2 separate regions of the Homo sapiens genome follow, and region 2 is linked to region 1. A link means that fine-mapping ties the variant in region 1 to the expression of a gene that starts in the linked region. Tissue or cell type: whole blood. Region 1 holds a variant in brackets; the other region holds the start of a gene. All regions are shown on one strand. Distances are between the middles of the regions.

The links.
Region 2: NIPBL-DT starts here. The variant in region 1 is fine-mapped to the expression of NIPBL-DT in whole blood (INTERVAL, PIP 0.92).

Annotation. Positions count from the first base shown.
Region 1 is chr5:36,920,443-36,932,075 of GRCh38, reverse strand. The region is part of intron 1 of NIPBL (NIPBL cohesin loading factor); the gene reads right to left. Among named protein-coding and RNA genes, the nearest start is that of NIPBL, 49 kb to the right of the region's middle. The variant G/A (reference allele first, on the strand shown) is at 6,443.
Region 2 is chr5:36,871,101-36,882,733 of GRCh38, reverse strand. It overlaps NIPBL-DT (NIPBL divergent transcript), which reads left to right and starts at 6,040. Exons shown (of 1, transcript NR_046262.1): 1 at 6,040-11,373. NIPBL (NIPBL cohesin loading factor) reads right to left here and starts at 5,965. Exons shown (of 47, transcript NM_133433.4): 1 at 5,556-5,965. RefSeq lists silencers at 5,340-5,459, 6,100-6,209 and an enhancer at 6,620-6,669.

The sequences.
Region 1 (11,633 bases):
AACCGAAAGAAATCTGAGAAAATCAATGGGTCAAAGAAGAAATCATGAGAGAAATTAAATACTTAAAACTGCATGAAAATGAAATCACAACATATTAAACTTCATGGGATACAGCTAAAGCAGTTTTATAGGAATATTTATAGCTTTAAATGCCCATATTAGAAAGAACAGCCTCGAATCAGTATTTATGCTTCCATACCTTAAGAAACTAGAAAAAGTGTAAACAAAATCAAAAACAGGAAGAAGAAAAAAATAAAGATAAAAGTAAAAATAAACAAAAAAAAAAAAAACCAGAGACATACGAATGAATTCAAAAATTAGTTCTTAAAAAATAATCAACAAAATTGACAATGTCTTAAATAGAATGATCAGGAAAGTAAGAGAGAACAGACACAAATTACCAAAATCAGAAATGAAGGAGAGGAAATCACTACCAATACTTTAGAAATTAAAAGGGAAGGCCCGGTGTGATGGCTCATGCCTATAATCCCAGCACTTTCCAGGCCAAGGTGGGCAGATCATTTGAGTCCAGGAGTTCGAGAGCAACCTGGGCAACAAGGAAAAACCTCGTCTCTATAGAAAATACAAAAATTAGCCAGGCATGGTGGCATGCACCTGTGGTCTTAGTTTCTCAGGAGGGTTAGGTGGGAAGATCACTTGAGCCTAGGAGGCAGAGGCTGCAGTGAGCCGAGATCACACCACTGCACTCCAGCCTGGGTGACAGAGTGAGACTCCTTTTCAAAAAAATAAAAAAAGAAAGAATTAAAAGGGAATATTAACTTTAAGCCAACAAATTACACAACTTATATTAAAAAAAAAGGAAATTCTTCAAAAGACAAATTACCAGAACAGACTCAACAAGAAATAGAAACTCTGAATAGATCCCTAACAAATAAGAAAACTGAACTACTTATTAAAAATCTTCACACTAAGAAAGCCTAGGCACAGACGATCTCACCAATGATTTTTATGAAATATATAAGAAAGAATAGCAAACTTTTATAAACTGTTTTATAAACTAGAGAATATTTCCCAGCTGAGTCTGGTATCACCAAAGCCAGACAGAGACAATGCAAGAAAACTACAGACCAATATCCCTCATGAACACACATACAAAAATTATTTTTTAAAAACTGGCAAACCAAATTCATCAACATATAAAAATGACTACACATTATGACCAAATGGGATTTATCCTGTGAATGCAAGGGTGGTTAACCATCTAAAAATAAATTAATGTAAAACATCTTATTAATAGAAATAGCAACTAAAGCTACATGACCATTTTGAAAGACACAGAAAAACACTTGACAAAATCCAACAACCACTATTTTTTAAAACTCTCAAAAATTAGAAATAAAAAGGCTCTTCTTCAACCTAATAAAGAGCATCTATGAAAATTCTACAGCTAACTTCCCTATCAGGAGAAAAACAAAAATGCCTGTTCTTATTCCTTCCACTGAATATTGTCCTGTAGGTTTTAGTTAGTACAGCAAAACACCAAAAAGTAACACATTTTAAGAAAAAAACTTAAAAAGATATTAAATGCATTCAGATTAGACAGGAAGAAATGAAACTGCATTATCAGATGACACTGTCCAGTATGTAGAAAATCCTAAGAAACCACCAACGAACAACTAGAATCAAAAAAAAGCTCAGCTAGATCACAAGATAGAAAATCAACATACAAAAATCAGTTGTATTTCTATATTCTAGCAAAAATGCAAAAATGAAATTAAGAAAACAATTCCATTCAAACTAGGACCATGAAGAATATTTGGGAATAAATTTTTAAAAATCAGTATAAGATTTGTATTTGCACACTGTTATAAGACACTGCTGAGCCAAAAAGATCTAAAACATTCCATGCTCATAAATTAGAAGACTCAAAATTGTTAATATGGTAATTCTCTTCAAATTGATCTATAGATTCAACATAATCTTTTTCAAAATCCCAGCTGTTTTTTTTCCATAGAAATAAGCTGATCCTAACTTTATAGGAAAATACAAAGGATCTAGAATAGCCAAAATAATTTAGTGAAGAAAAAAGTTGGAGAACTTATACTACCCAATTTCAAAACTTACTATGAAGCTACAGTAATCAAGATTGTGTGCTATTAATATAAGGACAGGTATACGGATTGATCAATGAAGAGAATCTAGAGTCCAGAAATAAATCTTTGTATTTATGTTAGATTTTTCACAAAGATGCCCACAAAATTCAATGGAATAAAAGACAGTCTTGTCAACAAATGATTTTTAGATAACTGGACATTTACATGCAAAAATAAATTTAAAAACAGACCATTAACTTATACCATACACAAAAATTAATTCAAATGGATCAAATACCTAAATGTATGAGCTTAAACTATAAACCATCTAAAGGAAAATATAGGAGAAAACATCTGTGACCTTAGGTCAGGCAGAGTTCTTAGATGACAAAAACAAGGCAGAGTTCTTAGATAACAAAAACATGAGCCATAAAAGATAAAACTGATAAACTGGATTTCATTAAAGTTAACAATTTTCATAGTTCAAATGATATCAATAAGAAAATGAAAAGACAAGCCATAGACTGGGAGAAAATATTGCCAAATCACAAATCTGATGAAGCTCTTGTATTCAGAATTTAAATGAACTCTCACTAGTGAACAAGAAGATAACACAACTTTGAAAATGGGCAAAGAACTTACTTAAGACACTTCACCAAAGAACACATATGAATGGCTTATAAATATACAAAAAAAAGTGCTCAATATCACTTCACCAAAGAACACATGTGAATGGCTTATAAACATATAAAAAAAAGTGCTCAGTATCATTAGTCATTAGGTATATTCTCACTGAAACCACAATGATACCATGACACATCCATTAAACTGTCATAATGTTATAAAAAAAGACACTATTAACTGTTGGTGAAGATGTAGAGAAACTTGAACCCTTACACACTGCTGGTAGAAATGTAAAATGATACAGCCACACTGGAATACAGTTTGGCTGTTTCTTAAAAAGTTAATTATCATATGACCCAGCAATTCCATTCTTAGGAATGTATCCAAGATAAATAAAAACGTATGTCTACACAAAGATTTCTCCATGAATGCTCAAAAAAGTATTACTCATAAAAGTAAAAAACTGGAAATTATATAAGTATCTACCAACTAGTGTATAGACAAACAAAATATCATAATACAATGAACTACCATTCAGCAATAAAAAAGAACAAAATACTGATACGTTATGTCATAAATGAACCTCAAAACATGCAAAGTGAAAGAAGCCAGATGCAAAATACTACATATAATTCTTTTTAGATGAAATGTCCAGAAAAATTTATAGAAACAAAGAGCAGATCAGTAGTTGCCAGGACTGGAGAGGGCTGTGGGAGTTGGGAACTCACTGCAAATAGGCTTGAGGAAAATTTGGGGACTGATGAAAAGGTTCTAAAACTAGAAACCATTAAATTGTATACTTAAACAGGTGAACTTTATATTAAGCGGATCATACCTCAATAACGTTGTAAAGTAAAATTGCATCTAGAGATATTAATCTCCTTTATCTAGCTCTAAACATTTCTCCTTAGGTCAATATATTTTTCCTTAAGAAATTTTTTTAGTTAGTAAAAACATTTATTGTACATACTGATCATATACAGTACTAACAATTTCTGGGAATGCAAAAACAAACACTGTGATTTGGTTGTATTAATTAGCTCTAACTTGCACTTGACTAAAATTTCTTGAGAAGAATAGGCAAAGCAATCATGTTTTTAAGCAAGCTTACAAACTGTCACCTGCATGTAGTTAAAGACTACTTCACTTACCCTAGGATGACAGTTACATTCAATATAATTACCCTGTTTTGAAAAGATTCACTGATATATTAAAGTAGGAAGGCATCTTACAAATAATCTAGTCCAATCTCTTCGTTTTACAGATAAGAAAAAGATGAAATTACGTGTTCAAGACCACACATTCAAAGTTAGTTGCAAAGCTTCCCAGTCTCCTGACTTTCCTGCTCTTTTTGTGCATCGAGTATGGTTTTATTGAAAGAAAGTGGTAGAAAATTTAAAAAAAAAAAATCACTGCAGCCGGGCATGGTGGCTCATGGCTGTAATCTACTTCGGGAGGCTGAGGCAGGTGGATCACCTGAGGCCAGGATTTTGAGACTAGCCTGGCCAACATGGCGAAACCCGTCTCCTTTACCACTTTATTCTCCCTTGGTGATTTCCATGTCTCAAGGATTTTAAACACTATATATATTAAAGACTCCAGCCTGGACCTCTCTCCTGAACTCCAGACTGGTATATCCAACTGCCTATTTGATATCTCCATTTGGATGTCTAACAACCATCTCAAACTTACTTCCAAAATAAATTCCTTATACTGTTCTTCGTGCTTCTTCTACAATACTCCTAATTTTGATTAAAGACAACTCATTTGTCCAGTTCCTTTGGCCAAAAATCTTATTATCCTTGACTCCTATCTTTTTTACACAACTTTTGGATCGTGAGTCTCTACCTTCAAAATATATCCAAAATTCGACCATTTCCAAGCCACCATGCTCCCTTCCCAGACTCTTAATTGGTCTTTTTCACTCTTGCACTCCTTGGCAGTTAAACATAGCAATCAGAGATTCTATTAAAATACAGGTTGGATCATGTCACTCTTTTTGAAATCCTTCAATGACTTTTTCAGAGCAAAGGCAAAATCCTTATAATGATCTACAAGTTTAGAATATGAATAACATTTTAAACCAAAAATCCGCCTTGATATTCTTTTCTCCTCTCAGTAAAATATGCCTGTATCCTCCTTGAGAAAACAATACTTATAATATGTAAGTGTTATATAAATTGGTGAGAATATAACATTAAATGAAATGGAGTGGAGGATTCTTTCTTTTCTCAGATCTCATACACCTACAACTCTTGAACTCAAGTCGTGATACAAAAGCAGATGATAGTACACTGTTAATCATAAAGCAAATATTAGAGGGAGAATATACATATTTATAGGAAAAAGTGTTTATAGTTCTAACGTCAACAAAACCAACTTCTCCTTTCAAATCAAACCAATAAACATTTTGGTTCAGCTTCAGGAAAAATTGACTCCCATTATAGGTGCTCTGATTCTAATAACTGTTTAAATTTGTTCCCGGTAAAAAAATACATGAAACCATTTGCCCTATTACCAATTTTTTTCAACTTGAATTTACACAATCTAAAATAATTGGTTTAATTCAATGTGGCAGATTAAAAACCACATGATTAGTACTCATGGCATGCCTATACCAAAATATCTCACATACCCCATAAATATATATACTTACTATGTACCCACAAAAATAAAAAATAAAAACCACAAATTATTTGCTAGTCCTCATATTGAGGTAATGGCTAATTCCTCTCCTTTGAATCTGGGCTGACCTTTGTGACATGCATGGTGAATAAAATGCAGCAGAAAGGGGCTAGGTGATAAGAAATCTTACAGCTTTCAAATAAGCATGTTGACAATACTTTTTGGAAACCCTGATCCACTATGTTAAATATCACATGACCATGAAAAAGCCATGCTGATGATGCTGTATGCAGATGCTACACATGATGTCTCCGCTGAATCGAGCCTTTTGGCTGTCTCTACCAAGGCGGCACTTATATGGGTAAAGCCATCTGGAACTATTCTGGCCAGCCCATCTACCAGCTGAATACCTCCAAGTAACCTCCATCACCACCACATGAACAAAGCCAAGCCCTGCCTAAATTCCTGACCCACAAAATCGTGAGACATAGGAAAATGGCTGTTATTTTAAAACCACACTAAGTATGGGGAGTAGTTTGTTACACAGCAACAGATAACTGGAACAGTCAGTAACATTTTTTTGTTTTGTTTTTAAATCAAACTGGCAACAAAGAAGTTCTCAAAGGTACATTTACAGTGTTCAAAAGTGGTAAAGAATTCACAGAGTGAGCCAAAGGAATTAAGTCAGGATATATGTTTATTCTCATATTCAGGAAGGTATTGCCATGGTAATGGAGAAACTACTGACGTGACTGAGTCATCAATGAATTAGACTTGAGAATGGGTACGAAAATGAGAAGAAAATATTCATAAATGATACCTAGCTAAATGAGCATAGCAGGAGGTTAAAACAAATCCATGACTTAGAAGTTTGGGAGACAGGGTATAGAATATTATGTTCTTGGTCTAGTTGGACAGAAATAAGTAAGAATGGAAAGCAGGAAATGTGAGTAGAATATAGGCAAATGAACAGACAATGGGAACTGTAAGTTACGTAGGATGGATATATGTTCTCTTAGCTCAGCCTCAAGAAGAAACAGCCTTCTAACAATATGCAATAGTGGCAAAAACAGGTTTTTAATTATAATTCTGCCACGTACTAGTTGAAAGACTTTAAGTTATTTACTTAGTCTCTTTGA[G/A]GGTTTCCTCAAATATAAAGTGAGGATAATAGTGCCTACCTCAGAGTTATTTTAAAAATTAATGAACTGGCTGGGCGCGGTGGCTCATGCCTTTAATACCAGAACTTTGGGAGGCCGAGGTGGATGGATCACCTGAGGTCGGGAGTTCGAGACCAACCTGGCAAACATGGTGAAACCCCGTCTCTACTAAAATACAAAATTAGCCGGTGTGGTGGTACATGCCTGTAATCCCAGCTACTCAGGAGGCAAAAGCAGGAGAATCACTTGAACCCAGGAGGCGGAGGTTGCAGTGCGCCGAGATCACGCCATTGCACACCAGCCTGGGCAACAAGAGTGAAAATCCATCTCAAAAAAAAAAAAAGTAATGAATTAATGTATGTAAAATAAGTGTAAAAGACAATAAATATTAAATTTGGAGATATGATATACTAGAAAAGAGTGTTTTAAAGTATTACTATCAATGCTATTAATAGATAGCATCACTTATTTGAGTACCTTCTATATGCCAAGCATTCTGCTAGATAACATTAATCTTCAGCAGATTCCTGTCAGACAGATATTGACCTCCCTACTTCATACTTATGAAATACCTGCATAAGTGGACAAAGTAACTGCTTAGTAGCATCGTAAAATATTTTCCTTTAAAAATACAATTATTGTTTCTTAACCTGATGACAGAATAAAAGATATATAAAATTTTACTGACAAAGATACTGGTATAATGGATGTAAGTAGTCAAAGAAAAAGGCCTTTAATAGAGGCCCCCAGGAATTATTATAGAAAATAAAAGCAAAATGGAAACGTCTGGGGTGGGGATAGGACAAGGAAATCTTAAAAGGGAATGTGAGATGAGAGTCTGAGGAAAAATCTATTTCTTGTATTAGCTAGACTGGAGATTTTCTGTCACTGTTGATAATAACAGCAGTTAGTGTCAGCTATGTACATTACTAGCTGCTTTACATTCATATCATCATTTAATTTTCATGGCAATCATCCAAAGCAGTTATCATTCATTTCATTAAAAATTTAGTGAGTACCTACAAGGTACCAGACATTGTGGATACACCTATACACAAGACAATACAGTGTTCCTGACCAAACCAGCTGGCAAACTATTATAGAAATGGAAGCCTTTTCAAAGAGGTTACAGTAATTTGCCTAAGTTCACACAGCTAATAAAGACCACAATCAGAATATGAATTCAAATCTTACTCCAGGCCTATGTTCTTAACCACTACACTTAATGACACAATAAAAAAATAAAAAATTCTGTAATGCTGACAAGCTACAAAACTATTTAAACTGATATAAAATTTTCTCAAGAAACATTCAGTAACACACTAAACATTTTATTAATCATCCATAATTAATAATTTATTAAACAGTTATATTTAAATTTATTTCAATAATATTCCATGCTTACTGCAGTTGTAACATTTAAAGATCAAAAATTTGGATATTAGTTCAAGAGGAAAATAGCTGTTATCCAAAGTTAAGAGCTATATTCATTGAGTTCTATGTTATCTGATTTAGTTTGATTAATCACTTAAGCAATCATGTTAACAAATAAGAAAATCCTAAAGATAATAATAACAGATCTTAGTGGAAAGCAACAATGTGAGTGAACAAATTATAACAATGTCATCTATAGGACAATTAGTAGAATACAGATAACTTGGAACTTGCAAATATAATCCTTAACCACTTTAAAACAGGAATTCATTCACTCAAAAGTGCATCTTGCTCTATCCATTTATAAGACTAGATATTGCCAGGACTCAATTTGCAATTTTTATATCATATTATATATGAACTTTCTACAAATAGTAGTGAACATTTTCACAGCCTCAGGGTGTTGATTGGGCCTTAACACTTATTATTATCCCCTTAGAGTCTCATTTATATCAATCAGTTGGTATCTAATACAGACATTACACAGAAAGCCAAAACAGGTCAACCAAGACTACTTCTGTGACTGCAGAAAAAGATTCTTCTGGATATAAAATTTTTAAAGTAAGAGTATTTATCAGAATAACTAAATTGTAAAGTAAATAACCAAAGACCACATAATGTTTCAGGCCACAGAAAGAAGAATGTATATAAAAGCAGGAAACTGGTCACTTTCCATAAAGGACCTTAATAAGTGTTTTTAATAATAACTAACAACAATATTCAAAGATTACTCTAGTTATCAGATCAAGAGATATCAAGATAATGTCCTCAACTTATCCATGAAAGGAAAAAATATATATATATCTCAGAGAATAACATCATTGGCCCTGAGAAGTCAGCATTTTTTTGTTGTTGTTTGTTTTTGTTTTTTGTTTTGAGATGGAGTCTCGCTCTGTCATCTACGCTGGAGTGCAGTGGTGTGATCTCGGCTCACTGCAACCTCCACCTCCTGGGTTCAAGCGATTCTCCTGCCTCAGCCTCCCAAGTAGCTGGGACTACAGGTGCACGCCACCACACCCAGCTAATTTTTGTATTTTGTATTTTTAGTACAAAATTACAAAAATTTTGTAATTTTGTATGTTGGCCAGGATGGTTTTGATCTCTTGACCTCGTGATCCGCCCGCCTCGGCCTCCCAAAGTTCTGGGATTACAGGTGTGAGCCACCAGCCCTGGCCTAGAAGCCAGCTTTAATTGGTTTAGTTACAACAAATCTTTTCTTTCAAATGTATTTTTCTTTAACTTTGTTTACAGAGATAATACTGGAAAGGACCTTAAAGGTGGTAGAAAAGAAATCTGTAGTTCAAATCAGTTACCCTTTAACATTCCCTTTATCAAAGGTAAGGTAAAGAAAGGTAAACTAATTTTCCAAGGGTTTGCTTTTTGGCATTTATCTTCTCAACAAAATTGCGATGGTACATAAAATCATCAAGTTTAGGCATAACAACCCTAACAATTTAAATGTTTTATAAGTAATATAAGTACATGAACCTCAGAGTTCATCACTGCACAACTTCATAAAATGAGTAAGATAGTCAAATCCAGGACTTTCTAAAACAAAACCTGTGCTTTCTGCAGTAATACCAAATACCACCATTAGACAGCCAGAGTGATTCCAGAGAAATAAGTATCCAGTATGCTGGACATTTCCTACATTTCATACTAAGTTAAAAGTATAATACTCGACAATGGCCAAAAGAAAACTGACCCCTCAGTTTTGTTTTCTTCATGGCTCTTAAGGACTCAAAATACTTTTTCTATGAATATACTACTCAAGTGGGTAACCTCAGATGAGATTTCACCTATACTATGAATAGCATGATTTTTCTTATTGAAAAATCAAACTAATAGGTTTAGGGTAAGAGTATAAAAATTATGATAAAAATCCAATTTTTAAGAAATGGGTCAAAATTCAAGGTCATTATACAAAAAATAAGGAGGTGGAAAATGGGCAGTGATAGAAACTGGTAACATATTTTTAAGAAAAACATTGAAGGGGCCAGGTGCTGTCGCTCATGCCTGTAATCTCAACACTTTGGGAGGCTGAGGCGGGCAGATCGCCTGAGGTCAGGAGTTCAAGACCAGCCTGGCCAACATGGTGAAACCCCGCCTCTACTAAAAATAACAAAAACTAACCAGGCGTGGTGGTGGGAGCCTGTAATCCCAGCTACTCGGGAGGCTGGGGCAGGAGAACCACTTGAACCCGGGAGGCAGAGGTTGCAGTGAGCTGAGATCACGCCACTGAACTCCAGCCTGGGTGACAGAGCAAGACTTCGTTTCAAAAAAAAAAAACAAAAAAAACCCAAAACCAAAAAAACACTTTGAGGAAAATGTATTTCAACAATAAAAAGTTAATAATTTCTTGTCCCCCTGCATTTTATTTTTGAATTATGATTTACCAAAACTCAATACAGTTAAAGTTTTTAAGCAACAATCAATTCTGTGTTTGTCCCATTCATTTTGGAAAGCTGGTATTTTCATTAAAATAGCTTTATAAAACGTAGGATTTTACTCCTGTGGCAAATGAATTCTCCTTTCCCTAACTGAAGGCAAACTAAAATCCTGCCTATTTTTTTTGTAAGCTTCAAAATTGGGAAAGTGGTGACAATATGAACTTATCTCGACAAATGCCCAAGTCCTAAATCATCACTTTTGATTTTGACCTGGCAAGAACATAAATTAAAGAAAAAGTAAGCCAAGAAGAACAATTAATATTTTCATGAAATGGTGAAGACAGGCACAGAATTGTAAGACAACAGTTCCAAGTGAAGACAGTACTTTTTATTTTGCTTTAGTGTGAGTAGTATAACAGACTATGCTACCAGACTAATAGTTCCATGTATAATACTAGTTCTAATGATAATTTTACTAGTTTTAAGATTTCATCATAGATTTTTACATCCACTCTATTTCAAAATAGTAGTCAAACCAGAATCAATATGTACTCATGGAAATATCAGTAATTTTTTTTTTTTCAGGAGATGAAATTTTCCTGTTCAAGAACATATAATACACTTTAGGTCCAGGGGTAAAAATGTGGTGTAGGATGAATTTTTCTTGGTGGATCTGGAGGAATGGGGAGACGCTTAAAAATTAGCTAAGAAAACTAGAGTATATTATTTGGTATTGAGGAGAGAATAAGGTAATCTGAAGTTTTTTGAAGATAGGTAAACCTAACCCATGGTAAAATGTAATTTATAGTACAGTCCTGAATGACAAGATCAAAATAGTAAAAGCAAAAGATAATTACAGCAGCCAAAGCAGAGAATGGGAATGTAGAAGAAAGTGACAACTATAGCAGCAATACAGAGGAGAGAATGAGAGAGTAGGTCCAGGCAGTCTTTGAAAAAAAAAAAAAATTAAGGAACAAAGAAGAAGATATGTAAGGTGACAGATACAGGTTAAAGATGCCACATAAAGTATATAAGGTGGTCAAGCTACTGAGAGGAGGAGCACAGTACTTAGTGGCGGGTGATCACAGCAGCAGACAACATTTTTCTTTGCTGAAAGACATTTATAAAATGATTCCATTTTAATAGCCACTAAGTAGCAAAGAACATAATATGCCACGTACATTTTTTGAAATAGATATGAACAGAAAGTGGAAGTCTGATAATTTTCATTTCAGAACACTGTTTCTTGTTCTATATTAGTGCTTTCTTATCAAAAATACTATCAGTCATTAGATTCCCAAGTTTGACCTATTAAAAAATTAAAGCATCAACTTTAAACTCACACAGTC
Region 2 (11,633 bases), 49 kb after region 1:
CCAGGGTGGTAGAATGTAAAGAATAGAGGTTTTAGAATTAGATACATTTTAGCTGGAATCCTACTTCTAACACTTGCTAGGTTTGCTACCCTGAATAAGTTTCTTAAGCATGATGAACCTCAATTTCCTCTGTAAAAAGAGAACAGTATCACTAACTTCACTGAGTAGTTGGGTGGTTCAAATCATGATACACAGTATCGTGGTTAAGGCTTATGGGTAAAGTATCAACTCTGAAATCCTTTCTCCACTGTCTTGAACTTATTAGTTGTGTGACCTTGGGCTAGTCACGTAATCATTCTATATCTCAGTTTTCTCATACAACTAACTTCAATTTCATATTCAACTTTTCAATACCTTGAGGAACTGAAAAACCTTTTCCCTCGCACAGTTTCTGTCACATGGAAACATTCAATAATACTACATATTACAAACATAAAGCACTCAACATAGTGCCAGACACAAAAAAAATCCCTAAACTAAGTTTCAAGTGACGTTGTACAGTATCTAAAACTCAAATTCACCCCAGAAAATAAAGATTTGTCATAAAGATGAGAAAAAGACTATTTCAAATGTGTTAAAGGTATTCACAAAAGGAATTCCTATAAGGTTGTATGTACTGGCAACAGTTCTGGAATAAGCGCACAACCTCCCAAGTTGATGACTATAATGATCAACATTCTCTGGCTATAAAAATACTGAAACTTTACAAAATGATCAGTCATACTAATTTATAGATCTAGCTACTATCCTACAATTGGTCATATACATTTCTATGAATGAAATGACTCTCTAAAGCTGAACTTTGTCTTTCTAACAACAGATGCTTTGACAAACATCTTCAACTCAATATAAAATACTTCAAAGAACTAAAAGCTTCACAGACTGCTTAACAAAAATTGTTTTAAACACAAGATGGTAAAGAGTTATTGATTTTTAAAAGTATTATAAATACAGAATATATAGCCTGAATTCTATTTCAGCTTCTTTGCCTGAAGTACACAATTTTCTTGACTAAGTGACTGGGCAAGTATCACATCAACTAACACCCAAAAGATAATATTAAAATTTCATTGAAACTAGATACATAGAATCCTGAATCCATAAGAACAAATGTAAATCAGACTGATCATTTACTAATTGTAGGACCATGGGCAGTTTTCTAAACCTTTCCAGCCTCAGGTTCCTCATCTGTACATTGTAGATAATTATTGTTTCTACTTTTGGGCATGTTAAAAGATTAAATGAGATATTATGGGGACAGACTTAACTCCTGGCAAATAAGTCCTCAAAATCTTAGCTGGCAATGCTACATCAAGCAATGATCTCTCCTAATGATATAACTTTGGGAATAGAAAAAAATATGCCTTAAAACATAATGCAACTTGACAAAACTCAATTCAACAAAACTGACTCCAGATTTACACCAAAAAAAAAAAATTACACACAAGACAAATACCTAAAATTACTTTTATTACTTAATTTATTTGGGCAAAATATTCTAAGCACATAAAATACCCTTTAAAATTACAATGATGGCCTTAAGAGACATGGAGTTTAAAATTCCTTTTAAATCAACCAGAAACACTAAAATCCCACTCTATTTTCATACCAGGAAAATACAACCAAGAAACAGGTATCCTCTCTCTCAAAGACAAGAAAAATGCACTTTGAACTTAGATAATTGAAAAAGTAACAAATGGTGTCAGTGTCAGCACTGAGCAATACCTAGCTTCAAGACCAGAGCTCACACATTTCTTAAAGCAACATAATCTAAGAAAATACTAGTGTCAGGGAATCCCTTATCCTCCGGCTGACTTACTACATGAATCTACACAAATCATATGGTCTCTTAAGTGTCAAGTATTTCATCATTAAACGGAAAGCTGGTCACTTCTCTCACAGGGATATCAGAATATTTTTAAATGAACTCAGGTCACCTTGAAAAAGGACTAGTTTTAAAATACGAAGAATTATTATAAATGACAACTGCTGAAAAAACGAAAAACTTTGCTTAAAAAGTCCATCTTAAAACAATTTTTAAAGGCTATATAAGACCATAAATTACCACCAAACCTAACCTAGTACGCTCAGGATATTAAAATAAGCATGTTCAACTGAACAGTTAGTTGTCAGCCTTCTATAAAGGTTCCTAGTCAATTATTTCCCATTCATTTTTATGGCAAGTAAATGTGATAAACAGAATTAAAGTTACATTTCTCTAAAAGGAATTACTGTTTACCTCACACTCCCTAATCACTTCACATAAAACTGAAATCTTAATTTAAAATTTTAGAATTTCTTCCAAATTATGCTTTTCCTAATAAGCACCAGAAAGGAGGATTAAATGAAATTAAATAAAACTCAAACTCCTGGTTTTTATTTACTCTTATATTATTAATTACTACATCTTATTTTGAGAAAGTAAAAATACCACAATGGGGTATTTCAAACATGTAACACAGATATGTTCAAATATTTCTATGACAGTTTGATGATGGATTGGTACCAAAAAATTAAATATGAAATTAGTTGAAGAAGCCTTAGAAAATACATTTTTCGGCTGCAAGTAAAGAAAATTTTGTATTGGTATAGCTTGCTCATATTTTTGAAATTTAATAATGATTACTATGAAGAACCAAGTTTACTGCCATAGTAAAAACTTTCACTTTACATCCCTAAAAAGAATCTCAAGTAGACTGTTTTTCTTTTTTCAAGTAATGTATAACTTTTCCTTAAAAGCAGAAAATATTATAATGATCTCTAGAACAGGTTCAAAAATGTTCTCAGATAACTTTAGTAAACAAATTGTTGAATAACTTTAAAAAGGAAGCATCCTATATACACTTCTCAAACATTGAAAATTATCTATTTAATGTTCAACTCTGATTTACTTTCATTATTTACTTGAAATCTCTTTTCAAGTAACAAAAGTTATTGACAACTCTTCAGAGTTAAGAGAAACAATAAGCGACATTGTTGAAATTTCCTTTAGGTGTATGAGAAAATATTTCTCCAAATAATATAACTAGGATTATAAGGTTACTGGAACACTTCTGATTTCTCCTTTCACTGAATTTTAATTTTTAATGGAAATAGATGATTAGCCACTAGTGAATATTCCAACCAACAGAGGGGAAGCAGAACACTCTACACTCTTTAGGGAAACAAACTATTCTCTCCAACTAGGTTATCAGAGATTTAAAGTTCAAGTTTAAATTTTACAATTTGAATTTTACACAATGTTTTCTCCTTTAAAAATGACGTATTTAATTGGTTTGGACCAAACAAAACATATTTTTAAATTTAAAGAAATGTTTATGCTATCATAATGAAAGCTATCACACAACCTATATTACTCACAAATTACTAAATATGTAGAATTGGGAAAATAAGTTGGGAAGAACTAATTCACTATAACAATTCCAAAGTCTCAGGAAAAAAAAGAATCAATCACATAAACCCATCTCTAACACACTTATTCAAACATCTGCATAAGACAACCTCTAAAAATAAGTTGCTTCAGTTCGTGAAAATTAAGCAAGCACAACTCCTCTATTATCTTTAGTAAAAATATGTTTATCCCTTGAAATAAAAGTTGTAGAGACAATCACAGGAATATATGAAGGCCTTTTAAACATTTATAATGAAGCCCTTACCACCTCCATCCCCAAAAAAACAAACCCTCTGCTTTCTTAAGATGTGAAGTATTCCTCCCGTCTGCATTCCCTCCCTGGCATGCCCCCCACTCGCACACCCCCCCACCCGCAGTAGGCCTGAGGCCCCGTAGCAAACAGTGTCTAACAGGAGCAGGCAGCACAAAGACAGGAATGGGAGATTAGTGGGAGGGAGGGAGGCCGGGATTGGGGCTCAGCAGGAGCTTCAGGCTTTTTAAAATTCAAACTGCTCCCTGACCAATACAAATCACGGACACGCTACTGACTACTACACGGATTTATAGCATTAAAAACATGCCTAGTACGTGACAGCTATATTAACTTCATTCTTTTAAACATTTATCCGTACGTTTGCAGGAAATGTGAAACAATTTATTGTAATCAGGACGCTAAACTCAAAAATAACCTCCACAAAATAACTTATTCTACAGTGACAATAATTTAATGACACAAAAAATATGAACCAATGTAACAAACACTAGTAAAACAAGGGATTTCGCTGAGCAGTGCTGCTTCATTTTAACCAATGAAAGTTTTCCTTCAGCGAATATGAAACAAAATATCAAAACGTGTAACCCAGGTACACTTTTCTAGCAATTTGCCTGACTGAGGAATTTTAAATTGGTGTTTCCCCCTTATACCAACCTACATTATGAACGCCTCCATAAACAAGCTCGAAACACTTAACTTACTCATGAACTAGAACTTGTCAAGTTAGAACTGATATTTTTCTCCAGCATTTACAGATACATTTAACCTATTAAAATGACACCTCTCTCATTACACAGTCAAACATCATGGCACAAACAGCCAATGACAATCCTGGGACCTCAAGAAGAACTGCCCTGACATAAAAGGATGGCACCTTCTACAATTTTTTAACCTCCCAAGGATTTTAAGTATAACTTAATTTCTTTTTTGGAAAAAGAAAAGAAAAGTGGTTTTACCCGTATCTCAGCACAATTCTCAGAACACTTAAAATTCTTTGTATGCTCCTACACGTTTTGGTCAGGAAGTACCTGAGTGTTTTACGTATAGTCGCTTAAAACTGCCCTTACATAACGCATACAAATAGAAAGTGGCAGAGTAAACCTGTCAAGTACTTTATACTTGTCTTTGAATAAAAAGTCCATGTGCAACAACACACTGTCAAAACAACAAGATAAAAGCTCTTGGGGAGGGGGAGATGTGCAGTGTCTACCACAGTATGTTTTTCTGTATTAAATATTCATGTGGACGATTTAATTCTTTAAAAAAGAAAATGAGTCTTTATGAACTTTCCAACGTCCAAACAAGTTTTAGAAAGAGAAAGAATTACCACTGGATCCGCGTCTGAGTATTTACGTTTGTCTCACTAACTGAAACTACTTCCTCCCTTCATGGGGTCACAGGGGGAAGAAGGGAGGTTGTTTGTTTCACTGGGACGTTCCCCACTCCCGGACCGGGAAAGTTGTAAATATGGGGACGATCAGGGCACATTTGCTGTTAGTTGTATTGTTTCCGCCTCCCCACTAGCTACGGCTCCACTCCCGGGCGAGGCCTGTCACCGACCAGCAGTCGCTCCGCTCAGCCCGGAGCTCTCCTAATCCCCGAGCTCAAGTAGATTCCGCTGGCCCGCGGCCTGCACTCTCCGCCGGGCCTACGCCTCCCCGGCCGCCCAGCAGGAGCCCAGTCCCCGCCACCGGAGCCGGCCGGGAGAGGGTACAAAACCACCGCTACCCAAGGCGGCTGCCACCAGAGAGGAGCGAACTCTAGACTCGCCTGTGGAAGAGACCTGGGGCCGCTAAGGAAACGGCGGGGAGGGGAGCGAGGAGGAGAGACGCTGAGGACCTGGCGCCGGCGCCGCCGCCGCCGCCGCCGAAATAAAGAGCAGGAATTTACCTGGGCGAATCGGCGTCTGAATCCAAGGGGAGGCCGAGGCCGCTGTGGCGAGAGACTATAATCCGGGCCGGGAGGGGGGGTGGCTACGGCTCCTCTTCCGTCTCCTCAGTGCGGGGAACATGTAGAGCCGGGGGGAGACCAGCCGAGAAGACAAATCGTTGCTTCTTCTTCCTCCTCCTCCTCCTTCTCCCACATAGAAACACTCACAAACACCCGACCACGGGCCCGAGCTACCGGGGGGGCATCGCCGCGGGCCCGGGAACCAATTCTCCTGTCGGCGGGGGCGTCCCTCCCTGCGGCTTGGTGGTGTCGGGTGAGTCGGTACCGACGGAGGGAGGGGGGGGAGGGCGGGGGGAAGGAGCCCTGTGTGTGTCTCTCTCTCGTTCCGTCTCTCCCTCTCAGAACAAAATGCCGACCGGAAGTGCAGCTGCAGGAATGACTCCCTCCGCCGGCGCCAAACACTAACAACCACCCCCTCTTCCCCACTCCACTTCCGCCACCGCCGCAGCCGCCGCTGCCGCCACTTGGGCTCGCGTCCTCGGCCGCGCCGCGCGGCACCCGGGCCCAGCAGCCGGGAGGCGGCAGCTCTCCTCTACGCCCGTCCCCTCAGGGCGGCTGTGGATGTTGCCAGTATTGTCGATGCTTCAGAGCGACGTTTGCCCTGCGACACAGGCGGGCCGGCTCTCCTCTGTCTTTATTTTCCTGGAGGCCGACAGGAGCGGGGCCCGAGTTCGGTGGTGGTCGTGAGCGTGGGGGGCACTCAGGCCCGGACGGGCTCTCAGGTCGCCGACGGCGGCGGCTGGAGGCCGCGCTGGCTGTCCCAGGTCGTCGTTAGCTTTAGGGAGCCGATCTCCGGGCGGCCCCACAGAGGACGCCCGCGATTCGATGGCGATGATGCCCGTTTTAAATGGTGTCCCTGCAGCCGGGTGGATGGATGGATCGTACACCTTGCCTTTTGAGAGCCGGGACCTTACGCCCGACTGCGTGTTATTTCTGCGAATAAGAACGCAACCTTTGGAGGTGAAGACGACTGTCGGCTGGATTGAATTGGAATCGTGTTTGTGATGATGCGTTTATTTCTGGAAATACGCGGTCTCCGCTGCTTTTGCTTTTTGTCGGCAGAGGTTTGGGTTCTTCTCTAACGGTCAGGATAAAGGCCTGTAGGCGACGCTGCGCGAGCGAGAAGCTCGCCCGCGGCTGCCCGGGCGCCCCCCTCTAGGTGTGGGTGGAGCCGAGCGCGCGGGGAGAACCGCCGGCCCCGACTCAGCCACCGGTGACTGCGGGCGACCCGCGGGCCTGCGGCCAGCTGATTTCAAACATCGTTTTCCTCTTTAGGTTCGGAAAACTGAGGCGCTGGACAAGGCTGGAATACAATATGTGATTATACGTACAGTACTATGGTTGTTGTAGTTTTTAAATTGTAAAACAAGAAGTAACCATTGTTCCACCGTTCTCTATTAAGTTTGTGTAAATTAAAAAGGGGCTATTTTCGGTAAAAAGTGCAGTAGGTAAGCGGAATTTTACTCAACCGGGACGAAATTCGTGTTATATGAATTGTATTGTGTATTTGTGTGTGTACCAGTGCGCTAAAAGTAAGTAGGAAAACTTGCTTAGATTATTCCTTTTGCCTCAGGCCACTCAGGGGGCCAAGATCCTGTCACTCCTTTTCTCTAGGCCCTGCGAATGGCTTCCCGTCTTGAGGGGAGTGAGCCAAAGCCTTGACTGCGGCAGAAGTCCCCGCGCGCCGTTGAGGGTGGGGGCGGGCCTGCCCTGGCATCCTTGCGAGTAGGACTCTTCCCTGAGCGTCGTCCACAGGGCTTGCTCCTTCACCTTCAGGATTTTGCTCGTGTCACTCGGTGCTTCCGCGGCTACTTTTAAACTGAAAGTTCCCTAGCCCCCTTCTCATTTTATCCTTTGGACAGTCTACATATCCATACTTGTTTATCTTCTTATCTCTCCTTCCCCAGTGCAATGTAAGCTCTAAGAGGACAAGAGGTTGTGTTTTTCTGCACTGGTGTTACGGCCCCCGCCTAGAATGCCACACAGTAGATGCGTAGTATGTGGTTAAGGAATGAATGCGATTATAAGGGCCTTGATGCTCCCCCATTTCTGTCTTTAATATGTACTTATATGCTACAGAGAGCTTTATAAAAGATTTAAAACACGTTTATTACAGAATTCTATAAAAATATATTGCTTCTAAACATTGGAAAGCCCTCCACAACACCAGAAACCCACAAATGAGGGATAAAATTTGTTTTTAGGCTTCTGTAAATGAGCATGCCCGAGGACAGTGCATCAAATGATCATATCCATACTGGGCCGATTATGTTTGCTCTTCTGAGTCTCAAACTGCATTCTTCATCTTGTCGTCCTCTGTCTTTCAAAATACATTAAAAGTGAGAATTTGGTTGGCTCAGAGCAAATCCAGCACTATTGGAAAAGTTCATTCAGCAAGTATTTATTGGGCACAAATGGGTACCAGGCACGCTAATTCAAAAGGTGTGTGTTTCTGAGGCTAGAAGGCCTTACATAAAGGACCACATGTGGCTACTTTGGTTGCTACTCAATTATGCTGTCAAGCAAAGCAAATGCTAGTGAAATTTATTTTTAGTTTTCTTCTGAAGAAAAGGTTCAATGAAAGCTGAGGTCAGGCTTGGTGTGGATATTTTAATTCACCATTTAGTTTGCTGTTTGCTTACACTTAGGTTAGCATTAGATATACTTAATCATGATTTTTGAGTACTATAAAACGTGAGAAATCTTATTTCCTAGTGGCTGGAAAAACAGGCTTTTTAAATTAAAATAAGTAAATATATCAGTAAGCTAGAAGCTATGCAATAAGGCTTTGGCTATGGTATTACAAATTTTCATATTTCATGTATTGAATTTTTGGACAAGAAAAGACAGCCTTGATAGGTATTTTATAACCATTAATACAATTAATCAAACATTGTTTAGTAAATCCAATCGTCTATTCATTATTATTTTTCCCATTAATCTTCAGAACAGCTTTAAGTTAATACAGATGACTCAGAATGTGTTTTTCACTCAGTTTCAAAATACCATTATTTCAATTCGCTAATAGAAGCACAATTATCTTCTTGTCTGCTTTCTTAAATGTTACTGGTAAACTAGTAATTTTGCATGTCCAGGTAACTGCAGCTGCTACAGTCAATCTGCTTTGGAAAGTCTTGGCATTATTGTGTCATTTAATTTAAAATTTTTAAGTTTTTTTAGTTTCTTCCCTTATTGAGGACTTATTAGGCGCTAATTAGCTTTATGCTAGACATCTCATGCATGGCAGTGAATGAAAACAACACTGCCTTTGAGGGTTTTAACTTGTATATAGTTTATACCATTTTTTTTCCAGGTTATAGAATCAAAGAAATTGTTTCAATTCATATCACAGTATTTCTCTATTAAATCAAATGGTATTTTGCTTGCATAAATTTAAGTATCCAAGTTGAGATCTTACATAGAATCTGTTAATCTAATATTAGTGTTTTCTTCATTTCATTGTCTTGGGTTTTTTTTTCTTAATAATTATTTTTCCCAATACCATCCATTTGTTTTGCTCTTACATTTTTAAGTCTTTTATGTTCCAAATCAGGTGACTTACATCCTCCACTTGTCCATTGAGGATAGCCCAGTAAACCTTTATTCTGACTTTAAATTGCCTCCTTGCTTCAAGAACTGAGTTGCATGACTCAGTTTTCTTTGCTAGAAATATCCCTGGATAGTCTCGTATGTATTCTTGATCAATGAATTGCAGAAGATTTGATTAAAAATTTTAAATGGATTTCAGGGATAAACTATTTGTATCAAATGTCATCACCAGGAATTTCTACAACTGAAAAATTTGAATTGTTATTTTTATTGAAGAATATTTATCTTTAAGATAAATGCAACTTGCTATAAAATGATAGAAATGAAAAATTTTAGAAAATCATTTTCTACTCACTATTTTATGCCTGCCAGTTATCCTTTGTTAGTGATAAAATTGTCTTTTATGGGAACGAATTTGTTAAAGGTAGAAAAAAAACTGGTAGTGTATGTATGTTTTATAGATTAGACACTACCAAAATTATTTAACATTTAGAATAATTAACTTGCTTTCAGGATGACAGATGACTTAAGAAACTGATGAAGGGTTAATTAAGGATATTGATTTTTAGGGCAGAACTACAAAATTATCAAATCACTTAACACTGTAAATATGTTCCTGTTTCAGGTTTTCAAAGTAAATACCTTAATCAAATTTGGAAATAGTATTTATGGATTTTATTCAACATAGATTATCTATTTTGTTAAAATTATAGAAATGAACAGTTCTTTTCCCATGGATGCCTTTTTTCATCTTGGCCTATTCTGATCCTTTAAGAACAAGCTTTGTCCTTTCATTAATACTTCTCACCTATAATTACGAATTTTCTCTAAACTTGTAGATTTTATTATCCATGCCATCTATTTATAATCCTATGACACTCCTATATTGTTTATGGTTTTTTTGTTTTTTTTTGTTTTTTTTTTTAGACGAAGTCTTGCTCTGTCACCCAGGCTGGAGTGCAGTGGTGCAATCTCGGCTCACTGCAAGCTCCGCCTCCCGGTTCACGCCATGCTTCTGCCTCAGCCTCCCCAGTACCTGGGACTACAGGCGCCCACCACCACGCCCGGCTAATTTTTTGTACTTTTAGTAGAGATGGGGTTTCACCGTGTTAGCCAGGATGGTCTCCATCTCCTGACCTCGTGATCCCCCGGCCTCGGCCTCCCAAAGTGTTGGGATTACAGGCGTGAGCCACTGTGCCTGGCCTTACTGTTTATGTTTTCATGCATCTATACCTTATGTTACTAAATCAAAGTGACCAGTTCCACATTATACTACAAGTTTCACTGTGTAATGCATAAGAATTACACAGAGGGAAGGGCCTCAAAAAATGCACTTCTGAAGTATTTTAATGTAAAATTATTTAAGACCATAAAGTTTCATGAAAGCCTAATCTTTCTGGAACCTACACATACTCTGCATGTGAACCAGAGTTAAACTAGTCAAGTATTTTAATACTGAACTAATCTGGAAAAACATCATTTAAAAAATTACTGTATTTATGAAGGAAGAATATAAAATCTGTTAAAAACTTAAAACATCTAAAATAGGTATGAAGAGAGGCTTATGGTGCTCATTTTAACAGCATTCTTGAGTAGGTTACCTTGCAGTCAAAGCATCTGCTCCAGACCAGTGTTTTAAACTGTGGATTATGGTACCACTATGGGTCATGAAATTAATTTATTGCATTATGACTAGCATTTTTTATTTAAAATAGAGAAAAGAATAGAAAATAAAAGCGTACATCACAGATGGTAAGGGTATGTGTTTTTAAGTAAACATTTGTTCATGTGTATATGTGTTAGATTACCTTGTAAAACATATTCCTTATTGTGGGTTACAGGCCAAAAAAAGTGTTTGTTTTTGTTTTTAAAAATCTACAGTTCAGATTTTCCTTAGAAAATGGGGAAAAAAGGAATGTTAGAAAGATCTGACTGCCTATGAACTAGTGAAGGATTTTAGAGGAAGTACCAGGCTATTTTAGAGATCTGATACTGGTTTCAGAAAGGTAATCTTAAGGCAAAGGGTAGGAAATAAAGTTATGTTGTTAGTAGAAATGTCAAATACGGTTAAAGTTGTGAGGAGGAATTATTTTCCTAGTGGACCTACATTTGTTGTGTGTAGATCTGTGACTATTACTGATCTGTTGTAGCACATTTTCCAATCTAAAATGTCCGATACAGCACAATAATAAACATGGGGCAGAATATATGTTTGTTTCTATTTCTTCCCACCTTCCCTTCAATCTTAAAACAAGTGTTTATTAATAAGTCAGACCAAAGCAAATTTCTATCTTTCACAGAGTAATTATCATAGGAACAAATTACTCCCTGAAAATGGTGGAAACTTCTTTCTCCCTCCGAAAAATAAACTTTCAATAAGTGTTTTCTCTCTAGCCAAAGTAAATAAGTTCTTAAATAGGTAACTCTCATTTGCCATCCAACTCATTCTATATATTTAAATAAATGTAC